Homo sapiens: one gene and its partners. The protein of the gene in region 4 purifies or fractionates together with the protein of the main gene of each other region. This does not show direct contact. Each region holds a gene or a part of one and is shown on either strand. Other genes may lie near its edges.

Region 1 (4,884 bases), on a different chromosome or scaffold from region 4:
ATTTTCTCCCCAAGTAGGGAAAGAGAAAGAAAAAGAGGAAAAAATACTTCCTCTACCCCTCACTTGCTGTTCCTTTTTGGAGCAGTAATTTTTCAGATTTGCAAGACCCAGGGGTGGCTAATCTGAGTGGTCTTTATTACCAGGGAGACCCTCAAAAGCCAAAAAGCCCTACCCTGTGTCTCCTGCCTCCCACAGACTCTTGACCACTCCTGTGACCAAATGGCAGTCACGTGGTCAAGACGTGCCTATGGCGGGCTTTGATGGGTTCCTGCTGTCTCAAGTCCAGTTTCTCAGCCAGTGTCTGGGTGGGCAAGTCAGGTTGGTCTCGTTCTGTATCCTGATTGCCTTCATTGATCTCATTGCCATTCTTCAACCCAGCTTTACCTTTAATGAAACAGAAATTTTAATCCTCATTTGACTCATTTAGTTCTGTTGGTTATTTTGCAGGAGAAGAAGTGACAGGTAGAATTTGTAGATTTTAGTACAAACTCCATTCTGAACCATTAAAACTTAGAAACTTTGGAGGAAACATTAGGAAGCTTGACTGTCCCATAATTTCTGTGGTTGTTTTGCTCATACAGATATATTAGCATCTAGAATTCTTATGTCCTGTTGTTCACTCTTAGATATTTAATACAAGATGCATTTCATTTGAAATTTTACTGTTTGGATGCTTGGATGGGTCATTTAACTTTGTTCTGTTTCTTATGAGTGGGACTGGGAGAGAAGGTTGGGTGGCTAGCTCAGAATACTAAAGATTACTTGGAGTGCAGATGCTATCATGTGGATCATTTGTTCAATTCAGTGGAGTATTGGTCATATCTGTGTGTCCCAGTGCAAGATCAATCAGACATGGAACCTGTTCTTAGAGACCTTGCAGTCTGCTAGATAAGACATGTATATATGTATATGTGTTGGAATGGGTGGGTTGGGCAGAGTAGGAGACTTGAGAAAGTGATGACTCTAGGGAACAAGGTGAGCCAACGTTGTGCCTAACACAGTAAGCCTGGGAAGTATTTATTGTGATTCAGTGGGTAACATTAAATTGATAACATTTGGATATGCAAAAATGAAGTGAAGGAGAGGCTGGAATTTTTAGTTGAAGGAAGGAAAAGCACAGAGGCAGAAGAATTTGAGGGCCATATAGTCCAGAAATGATAACGGAGATGCAGGTTGGAGGTATATCCTAAAGTGCTCTGAATTCCAGGCTGAGAAGTTTCTTCAAAAGTTTTCAAGCTGGGAAGTAATATAATTAGAGAAATGTTTTAGGAAAATGAACCTTTCAGAAGTTTTTAAGCTCTGGACTTGGCCAGAGGGTGGGGAAAGTCAATGGAGAAAAGGATGAGTTAACACAATGAAGATCAACATGTCTTTCACAGGGGAAGACCACAAAACCCCTCTGTAGTTGCATAGTGTGCTGACATTTTTTATTTCTGAATTAGATCCATTTCTTCAACATGTGAACAAAGAACTGAAAGAAAAAGCAATTCAGGCTGTTGCCACAAATCCCAAAACTACCCACGAGCTTAAAGTAAGTGTTGCTTGGTCATCCCGGTCACAAATAGAGAAAGCTCTAAATAAAACAGTGGTCTTGGGTTTTAGTGGCCTCCCAGAATGTATGATATACACCTGCAGTAGATGGCTTGATAGGGAAGCAGGGCATAAGGAAGGCTAGAAGAGCCTAGTGGGGCACAGTTGTAGCTAGAAAACGCACCAGGAAGCTGGAGTGTGGGTGCCAGATAATATAATGATGGGTAAGAGTGGATTTGGAGACCAACATCTTCAAGGAGCTATCACATTTTGACCCAAGGCAAGTTCATCTGCTTTTTTGCTATTCACTATTCTAGTCTGCTAGAGGGGGATAATAATACCTATCTCAAAATAGAATAGTTTACTAATACATAGTGTTCAGTAAAACAGTGTTCATTAAAACAGTAGGTACTACTGTTGTTCATTTGTTTGAAATATCTGAGGTAGGTCCACAAATAAATTATCCAGATATTGGGCAGTTTTTGCTTCTTTGTTCTTACCACTGATGCCATTCATGAGAGTTGGTCATCCTTTTTTTAATTGAAATTTTTATTGAGGGAATAATTATAGATATACATGCAGTTGTAAGAAATCATACAAAGACATCTTGTACCCTTTGCCCAGTTTTCCTCAGTGGTGAAATCTTGTAGAACTGTAGTATAATGTCACAGCCAGGAAACTGACATTGATATAATCTACCAGTCTTACTCAGATCTGGTTTTACTCCTGTTCAACTGCATATGCCTGTGCCTATATTTATATACAATTTTATCATGCATAGGTTCCTGTATCTACTCCTGCCATCAAGATGCAGAACATTTCCAGCAAAATACAAATCCTTGTTGCCCTTTTATAACCATATCTGCCTCCCTCTGCACCCTGCCCCACCCCCATTTCTAACCCCTGGTAACCACTAATCTGGTCTCCATTTCTATAATTTTGTCATTTTAAAAATGTTAAATGACTCATACAGCATGTAACCTTTTGAGATTGTTTTTTTTTCACTCAGCATGATTCCCTGGAGAGTCATCCAAGTTATTTCAGCTATCAGTAATTTATTTCTTTTTATTGCTGAGGTTGTCCTATTTTTAGATCAGCAATTTAGCTATAATGCAAAAATTCTTAAACTTGTATCCCACAAAATAGAAAATAGTATTCCTTAGGATTTAAACAAAATGGACAGATTTCTTGTCATAGAACTTGTCAACACCTTTAGTATCGAGTGTACATTGTCAATCTCCCTCAGAGGAATTAAGTTTTGTGATGTTTATCAAGGGTATTTGACCATGGAACCCCTTTGTTTCTAGAATGAATGTTGACTCTTCCCAGAATATATTCCACAGAACAGTGTGGGACAACTGATAGGGTGAAGAGCTCAGATTTGAAGTCAGAAACCTTGGGGTCTAGCCCTCAGCTCCATTTTCTTCTGTGTAAACTTTGTATCATACAACCTCTGTATGAACCTCAGTGCTTCCTAAACTATAACATGAGTATCATGGTAACTACCTTGCAGGGCTGTTGTGAGGATTAAATGAGATGATCTATAAATCATGAAAAAATTCGCTAAATATAGTACTATGTGAATGTAATTTACTGTTATTCATTTCTAATTTGGCTCTTGATCTGTTTCTCCCCTAGTGGCCTATTCTGGGCCAGCTTTTCTTTTCCTCTAAGTTTCAGAAGTTGGAAACATTTAAACCCCCAAAGGATATTGACTTAAAGTCACTTCATCTCCAGAAGCCTCTGGAATCCACCTGGACTAAGACCAACAGCCAGTTCCTATCTGGTCCCCAAAAATCAAGCAGCCCATTCACCCCCCTCCAGAAAGAACTCTTCTTAATTATGAATTCTTACCGGGACCTGTTCTACCCGGAAAGGACTGCTCTGAAGAACGGGGAAGAGATCCGCCATGTGTATTGCCTGCATGTGATAAATCACATCCTCAAAGCCAATGCCCAGGTGCTTGGCAACAATAGCAGACGCCGAAGCCAGAAGTTTGGAGTGGGTGATGATGATGACTTCAGAGACCAAGGGTTAACAAGGCCCAAGGTGAGTCCAGCAGGAAAGCTTTGCTCTCGAGGAGGTGGCTGCAAGGCACTGCCATAGAGGTGCCTGACACTTAGCAGGAACTTGGGTATTTTAATAATTGACTGGCATAATGAATGAGCCCAAATGTGAGCATATTAAGTAGGCCAGGTAGTGTCAGAGCAGCACTGCAGCAGCTTAGTGGGCTGTTTCTGACAGTGGATGTAGCTGGAAACTTGCGAGAAGGAGGCACTTCATGACACTTTCCTTAAAGATAAACCCAGAGTATATAAATAAAACTCCATTATAAATCTCTTCTTTGTGGTTGTCAAAGCTGGATGGGACCTTAATGAGCCTTTTATCCAATCCCTCCATATTACAGCTGTGGACAACCCCAAATTCGTAGAAATTCATAGAGGGCCTTGCTAAAGAGAACCAGGGAAAGAATAGCAGAGATGAGACAAGAACCATAGATTCTCTTCACTAAGCCACATACATACGTCAGCCTTTGAAAGCAAAAATTTACATTTGCCACTGTAAAGTTATTGCTGCTTAAAGTGATGCGTTTGTATTCATAAGTCTAAGCTCTAGTGGATTTGAGGCCTTAACAGGAAATGGCTTTCAATTTTATCTACATTATTCATGATGTTATAGAACCAGGACTTGTCCCCCTGCCCTGAACTGCATCTCTCCGTATTGAAGAAGCCTCATCTTTTTAGAATTTTCTCATTGAGTTTAATAGGATTCTAGAAATTTGATACTAATGTGGCCTTTAGAGATTTCTTAGTCAAACTCCCTTGTGTAATAGCGGGGGAAACCAAAGCCCCGACGCTTACTGTCACCGCTGGAACAATAACCCAGTCCTCTTAAATCTTGGTCCACCATCTCTGCAACTGTACCAAGCTGAGTCCACTGCACTCCTTGGGGCTTGAACATCAGGGTTATAAGGTTGTTTCCATTTAGAATTACATAGAAGAATAAGAGGCAGATTATCTATGAAACATATTATAATTTGGTGAATTACGTGATTTAACTGGGGTTATGTCCATTGTTTACAATAGGAAATTAGAAATTAACCATTTTTTAAGCATCTTCGGTTTTTATTCTCAACAGTAACTTTAAATATTTTTGAATATGCTTAGAAAGCTGAGTCCTGTTTTTCCCATTAATTGTGGTCATTTTTTTTTAGAAATGCTTTATTGTCATTTCTGAAACACTGTATAGAGAATGCACTAGAAATGTAATGATGTGTTAATCCTTTTTCTTACCCGCTTTATTTCTTCTCTACTTGTTCCATTTATTTATTCGACATGTATTTATTCACTGTGT
Region 2 (4,884 bases), on a different chromosome or scaffold from region 4:
AGAAACCAGACCTTTGCCATTACATGTCTATGAAATAAGTTGAGTTAGTAAACTGCTTAGAATTCTGAATCAAAAAAATTTTTTTTAGACAACTGTGTTAGTTATATGACTTGTCCTCTTAGTATAATAAGCAGTCAAACTGTATAAACCAAACAAGTGATTAGAAATCATTTAGGCCAGGTGTTTTGGTGGCTCATGCCTGTAATCCCAGCAGTTTGGGAGGCTGAGGCGGGCAGATCACCTGAAGTCAGGAGTTTGAGACCAGCCTGGCCAATATGGTGAAACCCTGTCTTTTAAAAATACAAAAATAAGCTGGGCATGATGGCATGTGCCTGAAATCCGAGCTACTCAGGAGGGTGAGGCAGGAGAATCGCTTGAACCCGGGAGGCAGAGGTTACAGTGAGCCGAGATCATACCACTGCACTCCAGCCTGGGCAACAGAGCAGGGCTCTGTCTCCAAAAAAAAAAAAAGAATCATTTATGCTGAGAAACAGAATGAGAACCAAGTCTTCTACCACCTTTTTGTGTAGGATATATAATTCAAGAATGGGCTAGAAAGTGAATTACAGGTAATTTAAAAATGAACCTCCCATGATGGTCAGGATTCCAAATGTAGTTAATACATTCCTGAGTTCTCGGAAGAAACATAATGGGTGAATCCATCATGTTGTTAAGTGAAAAACAGCTCTGCTAAGTCTGCTAAAATTCAAGATTTTTTTCCTGACTTAGAATAAACGCAAGGAAAATAATGACATATTTAGAAGACAAGCAGGTACTAGTATTTCTCACCTTTTTCCAAATGGCAAATCTGTTACAATAATATCCACAGAGCCAGTTCTCAATGGCAGATTGCAGATATCCCACTGAACAGCATCTATGGGCAAGCCCCAGGAGGGTTTGCTGTGGGGACAAAGGAAAGGTGCTTCAACATACTGTGAAGCATAAAGTTATTACAACAATTTTTGTTTCTGAAGAGAGACTGCTACAGCAAAACATAAACTGCTAAGGATATCAGTGATAATATCAACCTATTCAAAATTTAAGAAATGGCACAAAGGTAAAAAATAGGTCAGGCTGGGCATGGTAGCTTGTGCCTATAATCAGCACTTTCAGGGGCTGAGGTGGGAGGATCACTGGACTCCAGGAATTTGAGACCAGCTGAGCAACACTGTGAGACCTTGTCTCTAAAATACTTTTTTAAGAAGTTAGCAGGGCATGATGGCACACACCTATAGTCCCAGCTACTCAGGAGGCTGAGGTGGGAGGATCACTTGAGTCCAGGAGTTGAAAGATGCAGTGAGCTAGGATTGTGCCGCTTTACTCCAGCCTGGGTGACAGAGCAAGACCCCCGTCTCAGAAAAAAGGGAAACAAACTGAAAACATGATTGTAATGCAGAGAACTGCAAAAGACAACTTTAAAAACAATGCTGAAGCAGTAAATTACATAACCGATGATACAAAAATTTAAGTTGCTGATAAAACATACACTGGAGAAAAACAATACTAAAGAATAGATAATGGGGTGATGTATCTGAAGAATAAAGTTTGTAAAACTAGTAATAACAGGAGGCCTAAAAGAAAAACAGATAGTAAAATTGGCAAATATATAGGTAATTGTTTCAAGATGAAAAACCAAAAGGAAAATATGTGCCATGCTATATAAAACAAGACTAAGAAAAAAGTTAAGATAAAAAATATAGATGACAGAAGACAGAATGAATAATAATAAATACAAAGGATTTAAATCCTCCTCATTAAGGCAAAGCAACTGGTTTAAGAAACAAAATAATGCACAGGCTAAGAACTGAAGATAAGTCAAAGGTTATCAGCAGAAATTAAGGATTTAATTGACATTTAATGAAGAATTTAAGAAAAAAATGCAATAAAAGCAATCATTACATAATTTTTAAAAGTACACATAAAATATGTATTATAACCGCATACCAATAACTGCACAAAACAAAAGGCAAAAAATATTAAAAACCAAAGTAAAATGGATAGAAATGTACAGGTTGAGGCCGGGCACAGTGGCTCATGCCTGTAATCCCAGCACTTTGGGAGGCCAAGGTGGGCAGATCATGAGGTCAGGAGATTGAGACCATCCTGGCTAACATGGTGAAAACCCGTCTCTACTAAAAATACAAAAAAAAAATAAGCCGGGCATGGTGGCGGGTGCCTGTAGTCCCAGCTACTTGGGAGGCTGAGGCAGGAGAATGGCGTGAACCCGGGAGGCGGAGCTTGCAGTGAGCCGAGATCAAGCCACTGCACTCCAGCCTGGGCGACAGAGTGAGACTCCGTCTCAAAAAAAAAAAAAAAAAAAAAAAAAAAAAAAAAAAAAAAAAGTACGGGTTGAACAGACAGTGTAGGTACAAACAAGATAAAATATTCAGAAGCTAGAAAGGTACGTTTGTTTAAATGTTTATCAGTTTTAATTAAAAAAAAAAAAGACTGGCCATATACTAGGCTCATTAAAAAAAACCCTCAATAAATATGAAACAACCATTCAAAATTAATTCATCACAATAAATCAGTATTTAAGAAAATTGAAGCCTTCCAACTACTTGTCTTAATACACGTAAAAGGATTTAATGTTGATACATAGACCAGCAGCATCAGCATTGTCCTGGAGTTTCCTGGAAAATGCAGACTCTTAGGTCCCATCCCAAACTACTAAATCAGATCTGTGTTAACAGTACTCCTAGGTGATTCACATGTACATTAATGTTTGAGAAGCACTGTCCTAAAAAATTAGATCAGAGAGACAATGAAATATATAACCAATGACTTAGTAATAAAATAGAGGCGAGGCTATATAAACTGCAGTATTTCTATACGATGGAATTTATGTAGTGACTTTAAAGACTATGGTCCAGGTGTGGTGACTCGTCTCTAATCCCAGCAATTTGGAAGGCTGAAGCGGCAGAATCTCTTGAGGCCAGGAGTTTGACACCAGCCTGGACAAAACAGCAAGACCCCCATCTCTACGAAGATTTTAAAAAATTAGCTGGGCATGGTGGCACATGCCTGTATTCCTAGCTACTAGGGAGGCCAAGGCAGGAGGATTGCTTGAGCTCAGTAGGTTGAGGCTACAGTGAGCCATGATCATGTCACTGCACTCCAGCCTGGGTGACAAAATGAGACCCTGTACCCAAAGCAAAAAAGAAGCCTATGTAAAAATATACTGTTTAAAATTTTGTGAAATTAAAATGAGTCTATAAAATATTCTTCCAATATGTAGGGGAAAAGACATATGAATAAGACAAATGAAAAATTGCATATGGTGGGGAAATTATCGCTAAAATAATATTTTAAAAATATAACTTATTTTCAATAAACTTTAAAAATGTAAATGGAGTCTCATAGTATATTCATTTTGGTTACAATGACGTCACAATGCACTGGGAGTTTTAATTCATAAAGTCAATATAAAAAGTGATTCTCTAACTCTAAAAGATGCTAAGAAATCTTTTAAATTTTTACCCTTCTTTAATTTGGCTCTTGGTCAATAAAGATGCAATGTTATTTGCTGCTCTATTCACAGCCAGTGGATTATTATCACCAGCAATATGGAAACAGTCAGACCATTCAGTGGCCCCCTAAAAGATAAGAGTGTATGTTAAAACAAAAGTAGCAAACTGTAAAATATGATTAAATTGTCAACAAACAAAGAAAATCCAGTGCTTTTCTAGAGTGGCAAAACATTGCATGTTGTCAACTGTGCTATTTCCCTGGCTGAAAATGCCCTCTTATTCTTTCTCTGCTTGCTGAACCTCTACCCATCTCTTAAGACCCAGCTCAAACCTCATGCCCTTTCAACATCAACCTTAACTCTCCAAGCAGTCTTATGTGCCCCTCCCAAAAACACTTTGTATGTACGTACCTCTGCCACTGCACTTGTCCCACGGTTAATTATTTCTTCCCCTTTATGCCTCTCAACTAACCTGGGAGCTCTCTGAGGTCAGGTCTAGTATTTTATTCAGTTCCTCATCCAGCAGTGTCTGGCACACTAAATTCTAAGTTAATGCGGTTTGAAAATATTTGAGATTTGTGGTTGTGGGAGTTTACATAATCTGATATATTTGAAAATTGCAAAATAAAATGCTATTTCCGGCCGGGCATGGTGGCTCACACCTGAAATCCCAGCACTTTGGGAAGCTGAGGCAGGAGGATTTCTTGAGCCCAGGAGTTTGAGACCAGCCTGGGAACATGGTGAAAGCCCATCTCTACAAAAACACAAAAATCAGCTGGGTGTGATGGTGTGCACCTGAGTCTCAGCTACTCGAGAGGCTGAGGTGGGAGAATGGCTTAAGACAGGGAGGCAGAGGTTGCAGGGAGCTGAGATTACACCACTGCACTCCAGCCTGGCTGACAGAGCAAGACCCCAGGTCAAAAAAATAATAGTAAAATGCAATTTCCTTTGTATGATAGGCTTTTGAATGGTAACCACCATATCACTGGAAGGATTTTGTAATTATAAATAAAAAACCTGTCAGCAGAACATAAATACCAAGCTGTCACATGTCATTTGTGGAATGAGGTGACGTGACCCTAGGCCTGAACAATGTTCTATGCAGATTAACAGAAGGTTTCTGACACGAAAGCCGGGAAAGGTCTGCCTCTGCTTAGGGGTGAGTAGCAAACACCTTTGTGTTCCTTTGTGAACAGTAACATACTTCTCATCCATGAGTGCAGTGTTTCATAACTTTTTCTTTTGCCCAGACACTTGAGGGTGATAACATACCCTGTCTACAATCCTACGATGACATCAAACAAAAGGGAAGTTGAAGTATCCCAGAATTTTGGGTGGGTGGGGATGTAGAGGGGACCTAGAGTTTGAGGAAGGCTCTCAGTGATTCCGATTCCCAAATATTCTTTTTTTTTTTT
Region 3 (4,884 bases), about 10 Mb from region 4:
AAATAATGCTCACCTAATAAAAAAGAATCTCTCATATCTGATGCAGCAACAATTGATCACATGCTTTCACATGTAAATAGGAGTGAAGAAAAGGCAGGAAATAATTTAAGAGTTGAATTACATTATTACTCACTTTTCAAAAAATCTAATTTTTTCAAAAAGTTAAGCATACTTTGAATGCAATAACTGCAAAAAATTTCTACTTTTAAAGTTATATACAAATATTTTACCAATTTTAGTTTTAGATTATTTTCTATACTCAGCACTCTGATTTAGTAAAATACCTGAAGCATCAGTGCCTTACATATTTCTACTGTAAATTCTCTGATATTTACAGACTTAATGATTAAAATTTTTAAAAAATTTTTCCTGTATCTGCAAAAATATGTTTTAGTATGAACTCTCTGGTGTTTTCTAAGCTGTAGTTTTTGAAAAAGTATTTTTCCAACTTTATTACATTCGCACAGTTTTTTTCAATATAAATTCCCTGATATTGAACAAAGTTTGAGCAACTGCTTCAGAGGTTTCCTCTAATACAAAACGTGTACAGTAAGATCTGTGATACAAGTAAACATATTACAATTCTACTACAATGTTCTTCTTCAAAATACTCTTCACTTTAAAAGCTTATATTTTCTTAAAGATATTTTGACAGTAGTTGCACTTATGTTTTTATTGAGTATGAACTCTCTGATGTTGAGTAAGATGTGAGCATGTATTAATGGCTTTTTCACAGTCTTTATATTTGTACAATATTTCTCAAGTATAAATGCTTTCCTGTGAAGGTGTGAGCATTAGTTAAAAGTTTTGTCACACTGTTCACACATGTAGAAGTTTTCTCCAGTATAACTTACCTTACCTACAATCAAGTGTGACAACCATTTAAAACTTTATCACATTCTTCACATTTCTAGGATTTCTCAACACTATGATTTATGTTTTGAAAAGTTTGAGGTGTTTTCAAAGCACTGTCACATCTTTCTGGTTTGTAGAATTTCTCTCTAGTATGAATTATCTTATGTCTGTTAGGAATTGAGAATTTATTAAAGGCTTTGCCATATTCTTCACAGTCACAGGAGTTCCCTCCAGTATGAATTTTTTTATGTTTAGTAAGAGTTGAGGACTGGTAAAAGGCTTTGCCACATTTTTCACATTTGTAGGGTTTCTCTCCAGTATGAGTTATTTTGTTTAATAAGGCTTAGGGACTGGTTAAAGTCTTTACCACATTCTTCCCATTTGTAAGATTTCTCTCCAGTATGAGTTATCTTATGTTTAGTAAGGGTTGAGGATCGGTTAAAAGCTTTGCCACATTCCTCACATTTGTAGGGTTTCTCTCCAGTATGAATCATCTTATGTGCAGTTAGTTGTGAGGACCGGTTAAAGGCTTTGCCACATTCGTCACATTTGTAGGGTTTCTCTCCAGTATGAATCATCTTATGGGTAGTAAGGTTTGAGGACTCATTAAAAGCTTTGCCACATTCTTCACATTTGTAGGGTTTCTCTCCAGTATGAATTCTCTTATGTTTAGTGAGGGCTGAGGACCAGTTAAAGCCTTTGCCGCATTCTTCACATTTGTAGAATTTCTCTCCAGTATGACTTGTCTTATGTTTAGTAAGGTATGAGAATCGGTAAAAAGCTTTGCCACATTCTTCACATTTGTAAGGTTTCTCTCCAGCATGAGTTATCTTATGTGTAGTAAGGGTTGAGGACTGGTTAAAGGCTTTGCCACATTCTTCACATTTGTAGGGTTTCTCTCCAGTATGAATTATCCTGTGTGTAGTAAGGTGTGAGGACCGGTTAAAAGCTTTGCCACATTCTGTACATTTGTAGGGTTTCACTCCAGTATGAATTCTTTTATGTGTAGTAAGGTGTGAAGACCGGTTAAAAGCTTTCCCACATTCTTCACATCTGTATGGTTTCTCTCCAGTATGAATTATCTTATGTGTAGTAAGGTGTGAGGACCGGTTAAATGCTTTCCCACATTCTTCACATTTGTAGGGTTTCTCTCCAGTATGAATTCTCCTGTGTGTAGTAAGGGTTGAGAACCAGTTGAAGGCTTTGCCACAATCTTTACATTGGTAGGAATTCTCTGTAATATGAAATCTTTTATGTTGAGTTAGGTGTAAAAGCATGCAAAATGATTTTTCACATTTTTTACATTTGAAAGGTTTCTTTCTAGTATGTCTTATCTTATGTCTGTTTGAATTTGAAAATGTATGAAAGACTTTTGCAGATGGATCACATTGAAATATGTTGCTCTGGGTAGTTATCAAACACTGGTTTAATTTGTTATCATGTTCTTTGTGCACTTTACACTCATCCACACTTTTACAGCCTTTTTGTAACTGTAAATTGTCATGTCCATATTTTCCATATTTTTTCAGAATCGCTTCTTGAAAAGAATCTTTAATGTCCTGCTCTGCCCAAAGGTCTTGGGGAAAATGAGAACATATAACTGAAAGAAATAAAAATAACAAATTACTTTACTTACTAGACACAGATAGTTTACAAATCTAACCTCTAATATACAAACTACATAAATAAGATGGCATAGGAAAATACCAAAGGCCCTCATTCCTTTATAGACATATAAATGTAAAAAAAAAAAAACCAACCAAATTACATCTGAAAAAAATTATAAATGAGTTAAGTGTGTGAAGTGCCCCTGGTGAGAACAATGCAAAGAGCCACTTAGAAGTAAAAGTCTGTACATTTACCCAACAGAGCTCTTTCTGCTCCCCAATATAACATACTGTCTTTAGAAGTAAATTGCCAACTTGTTTTTAATGACAAGTAAAATACTGGCACATTTATCTTTATTACTTGCTTCTAGGAGCCTTTCCAGACACTGGTTTGTGTCTCTCTTGAAATATAATGCTGAAAGAAACGGTGGTATACTTTGGAGTGACAGTCTTAACTTTGCTGAGACCAAAGGTAAATGTTTCAGCAACAGAGAGACTGCTGTACCACAGACAGAAAACAGGTGTAGCACGTGATTATTATTAAGAAGAAACATGAATAAACTCCTTTAACTAAAAGAGAAAGACAAAATCTCAGACAAGACACATTCTAAGAACATGTTTGAGAGACTCCCAGAATCTCTAACCAAGACGATTGTTCAGACTATGCCAGGACAAAGCTACATTATAAAGATTGTGACAGGTAGCCTTTTTTAATGTCCAAATTTCAATCAAGGATTACAATGTATACAAAATAAGGCAATATGGTTCCATAAAAATATAAAATTTTAAAAAAGAAACTATAAAAAAGATGTATACACACCGATTTTAAAAATTGAAAATAAATTGAATAATACTCAGTGAGTGAAACAGGAAGACAGAGAACTATAGAAAATCAGAAAAATGAAGATAAGAACATAAATATTTAGAATATCAAAAAAACAAATTGTGGAGGTAATAAATATAAAAAAGAATAGCTGAAAAATATTGAAAGAAACGATGTAAAGATGAAGAAGCTCAACAAACAAACTAGGAAACACACAAAGATATTTATAACAAACACATATATAAGCACAATTTCAAAAGTCACAGACAAGAGAACCTTGGGAGCTGCAAGATAAAAGTGATGCGTCATTTGCCAGCATAGTCTTATGAGACAGCCAGTGAATTGTCAATAAAAATTTTGCAGGCCAGAAGGGAAGTGTGTAATAAAGTCAAACTCCTGTAAAATACAGCAATCAAGTAAGCATAATACTATCAGCAAATCTGTCCTGCCAAATAAAAAGAAAATAACTTTCAAAAGTAACAAAATTCTGAAAAGTATATTGGAACTCCATAAACCCTACATACAAAATGTACTGAAAGCAGTTGCTTCTATTGAAAATAACATGATTCAACAAAAACAACACAGTCAAATAAAAATACATTACTTTCGGGAGGGGGGAGGGATAGCATTAGGAGAAATACCTAATGTAAACGACGAGTTAATGGGTGCAGCACACCAACATGGCACATGTATACATATGTAACAAACCTGTACATTGTGCACATGTACCCTAGAACTTAAAGTATAATAATGAAAGAAAAAATAAAAACAAAACAAAACAAAAACAAAAAACAACAAAAAAATACATTACTTTCTGGGAAAGATTATATGCACATATATACTTTTACTTCTAAGTATATGCACATACACCAAAATGGAATTCCTTAGCATTATCATAATGGTGCAGAAAACATTTTTAATTATTCTCTAAAATTTGAAAGTGAAAATCAGAGAAATCATTATAAACATCTGTTAATAAATATACAACATAAAAAGATATAATTAGCAAAATCAATGACAAATTTGAGGGGAGAAGTAATGAGAAAAAAAATGTGCATGCAACTGAAGTTCTTTTTTACCAGATTGAAATATACTGTTATATCTTTTAGAGGTTTACGTAATCCCCAAGGTCCAAAAAAGAACATGTGTGTATAGATACACAAAACAAGAAAGAAGTAAAAGCATATCAATATAAAAATAAAAAGATACAAAGACAGAGAGAAAATGAGTGACCAAGATATAAGAATCAAATAAAACAATTAATAAAATAACATTAGTATGTCTTTCTGTTTCAGAAAATTATTTAAATATATATGTTTAACTTTCCAATCAAGAGACATACTTTCAATAGAGACTTATTTAAATATTTTAAAAACTGAGATCCAACTTGCCTTTCTACGACAGTAAGCTGAGATCTATTGATTAAAAAAAAACTGAAAGTGGCAAGATGGATGTAGATATTGCATGTAAATATTAACCAAATGAGAGAAGAGGTCAAAATAATATTACATAAGCTACATCTTACGTGAAAAACTTTCATATTTTATAAAATGTACTGCAAGTCAAAACTGCAAAGAGACAAAGAAGGGCATTAAACAA
Region 4 (4,884 bases):
TTGTTTTTGAGACACGGTTTTACTCTGTTGCCCAGGTTGGAGTGCAGTGGTGTGATCATAGCTCACTGCAGCCTTGACCTCCCCAGGCTCAGGTGATCCTCCCACCTTAACCTCCTGAGTAGCTGGGACTACAGGTGCATGCCACCCCGCCTGGGTAATTTCTGTATTTTTTGTGGAGATGGGGTTTCACTGTGTTTCCCAGGCTGGTCTCCAACTTCTGGCCTCAAGCGATGCACCCGTCTTAACCTCCTAACGTGCTGAGATTACAGGAATGAGCCACGGAGCCTGGCCTTTTTTTTTTTTTTTTTTAATTGTATAAATAGAGGTGGGATCTTGCTATGTTGCCCAGGCTGGTCTTGAACCCCTGGCTTCAAGCAGTCCTCCTGCCTCAGCCTCCCAAAGTGCTAGAATTACAGGTGTGAGACACCACACCCAGACAGTACCCACTGTCTTGCTGGCTGTGGGCCAAGACCACTCTCAGCCTCTCAAGTAGCTGGGACTACAGGCTTGAGCCACTGTGCCCTACAAGATATGTTCCCGTTTGATTAACTCACAGTCACCTAACCAAGGCTTGACATCCAGTCCTACTCACAGGCCTGCCCCGCTCAGGGGAAGAGGATCACACAGGGCATGTGTCCCAGCAGAACTGTGGGGGCCATCTTGGAATTCTGCTTCCACACAAACTTTTCATACCCACTTTGTTACTTCTCTGCTCCCTGACTGTGGGACCCAGGGCAGATGGCCTCACCCCTCCAAGCCTGTTTTTCCTGCTCCTTGAGGTGGATGATGCTAGAGCCCCCTCCCAGGGCTGATGGCAATTGGGGAGAGAGTCCAAGGGAGGGGCCTGGTGACACAGTTCTGGAGTTGGGGAAAGGTACATAGAAGTTCAGATTCTAGGCTGGGCACGGTGGCTCACGCCTGTAATCCCAACACTTTGGGAGGCCGAGGTGGGCGGATCACCTGAGGTCAGAAGCTTGAGACCAGGATGGCCAACATGGTGAAACCCCGTCTCTACTAAAAATACAAAATTAGTCTGTAATCCCAGCTATTCAGGAGTCTGAGGCAGGAGAATCACTTGAACCTGGGAGGCGGAGGTTGCAGTGAACCGAGATCGCACCACTGCACTCCAGCCTAGGCAACAGAGACAGACATTGTCTCAAAAAGAAAAAAAAGTTCAGGGCAGGCGTGGCGGCTCATGCCTGTAATACCAGCACTTTGGGAGGCTGAGGTGGGCGGATCACCTGAGGTCAGGAGTTCGAGACCAGCCTGGCCAACATGGTGAAACTCCGTCTCTACTAAACATACAAAAATTAGCCAGGTGTGGTGGCGTGCACCTGTAATCCCAGCTACTTGAGAGGCTGAGGCAGGAGAATCGCTGGAACCTGGGAGGCAAAGGCTGCAATGAGTCAAGATCTCACCACTGCACTCTAGCCTGGGCAACACAGTGAGACTCCATCTCAAAAAGTTCAGATTTAGTTTCAGTGTACAATGAGCAGTGGCTCTAGCCACTGTTGTTACTCATGGGTCAGACAGGCCCAGCGCTGGTCCCCCGTTCACCCTCTCTGCCTCTTTCTGTTGCAGGAAGCCTTGGGAGCAGGTCCCCAAAAAGCCAAAGCGGAAGAAAAGTAAGTGGAGGCTCAGCCTGGGGGAGGTGGGGAGAGTTGGGAGCGGTGGGAATATGGAGATGGAGGCCCAGAGAGGCCAGGTCGCTGCCCTAGGCAGCACAGTTGGAACCAGCAGAGCCCGACCTCAAACCCGGGTCTGCGTGTCTTGTGTCTCAGGCGCAGTGTCCTTGGCTCCCTCATTCTCTTGCTCCCGGCATGGGAGTCAGCCAGGGGAGAGCCGAGCAGAGGGAACAGCTTTTGCAGAGCCCTAAGGGCAGGGGGAGCCAAGCACTGGTGGTTAGAGGGGAGGTCTGGAGCTTGCTCCTCCTGTCCTGCTGGCCACCAGTTGGTGAGAGCTTGAACTGTCAGGGTCTGCACAGCTCTGAGCCCTGGAGCTGGGGGTCCCAGGCCATGTCCAGCAGGGTGAAGGCCAGCTGGTGGCAGTGAGCCCCTCCCTTCTTAGGTTTCTCCAGAGGCAGGGGTGAGCTATGACCTTGATCCTGAATCCTCAAGGGATGAGGAGCGCATTGAGGAGGGAAAGGGCTGGGCCGGAGAGGCGGCTGTGGGTGACGACTCTGTTGCCCTCATGATTGGAGACTGTGAGCACATTCCCTAGACCCAAACACCTCTTCTGGGCCCCTCTTCATCTCCCGGCCCACAGGGTAGGAGTGGGGGACATGCTGTCCTCGCACTTGGCTGAGGGACCAGGACCATCACAAGAGTCAGATACCATTTCCCAGCACTCACTGTGTGCCCAGCCTTGTTCTGTGTCCTGGCGATGTCTTCACTCCCTTCCTCCTGCCTGGCAGCCCTCCGGGATGGGAATCCCTTATTCTCCCCAGCCTAGAGGAGGCACCTGGGGCTCAGAGAAGCCAAGTCACTTGCCTGGAGCTACCCAGCTTGGAAGGGGCAGAGCCAGGATTCAAACCCAGGCGGTCCGGCTCCACCATGCCCGCCCGCTATGCAGCGTTCTCTCATCCAGCAAATGTTCCTGGAGCACCTGCTATGAACCAGGCCCTTTGGGGGCACTGGGGGTACAGGAGGAGCAAAACAGCAGTGTTCCTGCTCTTGAGGAGCTGACATTCTGGTGGGAGAGACAGACAGGGCACATGTAAACAAATGGCCACAGATGGCATCTAGGTACTACCTGGAGAAAACAGACAGCAAAGTTAAGGTCGGCTAGAGTGACTGGGCAGGGAGTGGCCTCTTGGAGGGGATGCATTTGGGGGAGACCTGAGTGAAGTGGGGAGGGAGCAAGACAGTTATCTAGAGGAAGCAGGCACAGCCTGTGCCAAGGCCCTGAGGCAGGGCCACACCTAGCCCGCTCCAGGAACAGCGAGGAGGCCATGTGGCTGGAGTGGAGTGCAGTCACCAAGTGGGTGAGGGCGGGGAGGTGACAAGTCACAGTGGGCCTTGTGGGCCGAAGGGAGGACTTTGGCTTTTACCCTGAGGGAGTTGGTCTTGCTGTGTCATCCAGGCTGGAGTGCAGTGTTGCGACCTTGGCTCACTGCATCCTCCACCTCCCAGGCTCAAGCGATCCTCCTACCTCAGCCTCCCAAGTAGCTGGGACAAAAGGCATACACCACCATGCCGGCCAATTTTTGTATTTTTAGTAAAGATGGGTTTTCGCCATGTTAGCCAGGCTGGTTTCAAACTCCTGGCCTTAAGTGATCCGCCTGCCTCTGCCTCCCAAAGTGCTAGGATTGCAGGTGTGAGTCATTGCGCCTGGCCCAGTGGATTCTGAGCAGAGGAGGGAACAGACTTGACTCGGGCATTCACAGGCGCCCCCTTGCGGCTGTAGGGGGTGGTTAGGGCGGGAGCCTGGGAGTCCTGGGCCTGAGGACTGCGCTGGTCTAGGCGTTTGATGAAGATGAGAACAATTAACAAGCAGCTAACAATTATTATGCACCTACTGTGCACCAGGCTCCACTGTTTACATGACTTTGCCAATAGAACAGTCCCCGTTACCTCCAGGGGGTGCCTCTCCTCTCTGAGCCTCAGTTTCCCCCTTTAAACTGGGTACAGGCCTGGATGGTACTCAGGAGGGCCTCCAAACCCATGGGACCCATAAAGCCCCGGTGGTTCAGGCAGCCATGTCACCATGGGCTGAGCCCTGTCCCTTATACCCACTCCTCGGCCCTGTGTCCATAGGGCGGCGACGCAACGTGAACTGCCTGAAGAACGTGGTGATCTGGTACGAGGACCACAAGCACCGCTGCCCGTACGAGCCGCACCTGGCGGAGCTAGACCCCACTTTTGGCCTGTACACCACGGCCGTGTGGCAGTGCGAAGCTGGCCACCGCTACTTCCAGGACCTGCATTCGCCCCTGAAGCCCCTCAGCGACTCAGACCCTGACAGTGACAAAGGTAGGTCTGCAGGGCGAGGGCACATAGGGGGCCGCCCATTTCTGGGGGCTTCTTACGAGCCCTAGGCTAGCATCACAAACAGAATAGCAGCCACAGTGGCTCTGGCTCTGGCTCTGGCACTGGGGCAGAGCAGGGACACGATGGGCCAGGCTGAGTCCTTCGTGGCCTTGCCCTCTTTGCGTCCTTACAGAGCTTGAGTGGGGAGGCAGTCCCTCTTTATGGAGCAGTTTGCCAATCTGTGCCCAAGGCCAGTCCCAGGCAGGGCTGGCTGAGGGCCCAGGAGCCCTGGCTTGGCAGCTGGGGCGGGGGCAGGCCTGCTGGGGCAGGGCTCGGCCCCCACAGCGAAACGGCCGCCTAAACCACCCAGGCCTTATGGCTTCATAGGCTGTGATGCTCTCCTGAGCCCTGGCTAAGCTGGCCGCTACCTCCTTTTCGATTTTCTCTGGCTCCCAGTTGCATTCTCTTGCCTTCTGCCTTTCCAGGCTTCGTTTCTTGCCTTCCCCCTCCATTCTGTTTCCCTCCTGTTCCCCATTTCTCCTCCCTTGAGCTGCCTCTGTCTCCTCCTTCCTTGATCTTTCATTTTCTGTCTCATCTCCCTCTCTCTCTTTCTCTTGTTTCCTTCTATTCCCCTTTCTCCTCCTCCCTCCCCACCTTCGCGGTCCCTGCCTCTCTCCTTCCCATCCCACGGGGCAGGGACTCAGTGAGGGAGGCTCAGTTGGCCCCGGTGAGTGGTGAGGGGGCTGCCGGCAGCCTCAGGGGTTCGGCAATGGCTGGAGAAGGAGCGTAGGGCACACTGCCAGGCGTCCTGTCAGGGCTGAGGGTGGGGCGGTCACCAGGGCTGAGCCTGCGCTGGCTGGCATCTCGGAGCAGGTGGCATCCCAGCTGGCCGAGGGGAAGCCGGGGGCGAGAGGTG

Evidence for each region. The genes of interacting proteins can lie anywhere in the genome.
Region 1: the proteins of ZNF653 (region 4) and UTP25 purify together in Homo sapiens (affinity purification with mass spectrometry; one large-scale study listed by BioGRID and IntAct). This does not show direct contact.
Region 2: the proteins of ZNF653 (region 4) and THUMPD3 purify together in Homo sapiens (affinity purification with mass spectrometry; one large-scale study listed by BioGRID and IntAct). This does not show direct contact.
Region 3: the proteins of ZNF653 (region 4) and ZNF100 purify together in Homo sapiens (affinity purification with mass spectrometry; one large-scale study listed by BioGRID and IntAct). This does not show direct contact.

What each region holds. Positions count from the first base shown.
Region 1 is NC_000001.11:209,833,633-209,838,516, forward strand, and holds part of UTP25 (U3 small nucleolar RNA-associated protein 25 homolog), read left to right. Parts: intron 1-1,442; coding exon 1,443-1,531; intron 1,532-3,168; coding exon 3,169-3,579; intron 3,580-4,884. UniProt on the Homo sapiens protein: Component of the ribosomal small subunit processome for the biogenesis of ribosomes, functions in pre-ribosomal RNA (pre-rRNA) processing. Essential for embryonic development in part through the regulation of p53 pathway.
Region 2 is NC_000003.12:9,379,215-9,384,098, reverse strand, and holds part of THUMPD3 (tRNA (guanine(6)-N(2))-methyltransferase THUMP3), read right to left. Parts: intron 3,597-4,884; coding exon 3,481-3,596; intron 901-3,480; coding exon 790-900; intron 1-789. UniProt on the Homo sapiens protein: Catalytic subunit of the THUMPD3-TRM112 methyltransferase complex, that specifically mediates the S-adenosyl-L-methionine-dependent N(2)-methylation of guanosine nucleotide at position 6 (m2G6) in tRNAs.
Region 3 is NC_000019.10:21,725,535-21,730,418, forward strand, and holds part of ZNF100 (zinc finger protein 100), read right to left. Parts: intron 2,456-4,884; coding exon 1,149-2,455; 3' UTR 1-1,148.
Region 4 is NC_000019.10:11,495,037-11,499,920, reverse strand, and holds part of ZNF653 (zinc finger protein 653), read left to right. Parts: intron 1-1,581; coding exon 1,582-1,625; intron 1,626-3,755; coding exon 3,756-3,971; intron 3,972-4,298; exon of another isoform or gene 4,299-4,377; intron 4,378-4,884. UniProt on the Homo sapiens protein: Transcriptional repressor. May repress NR5A1, PPARG, NR1H3, NR4A2, ESR1 and NR3C1 transcriptional activity.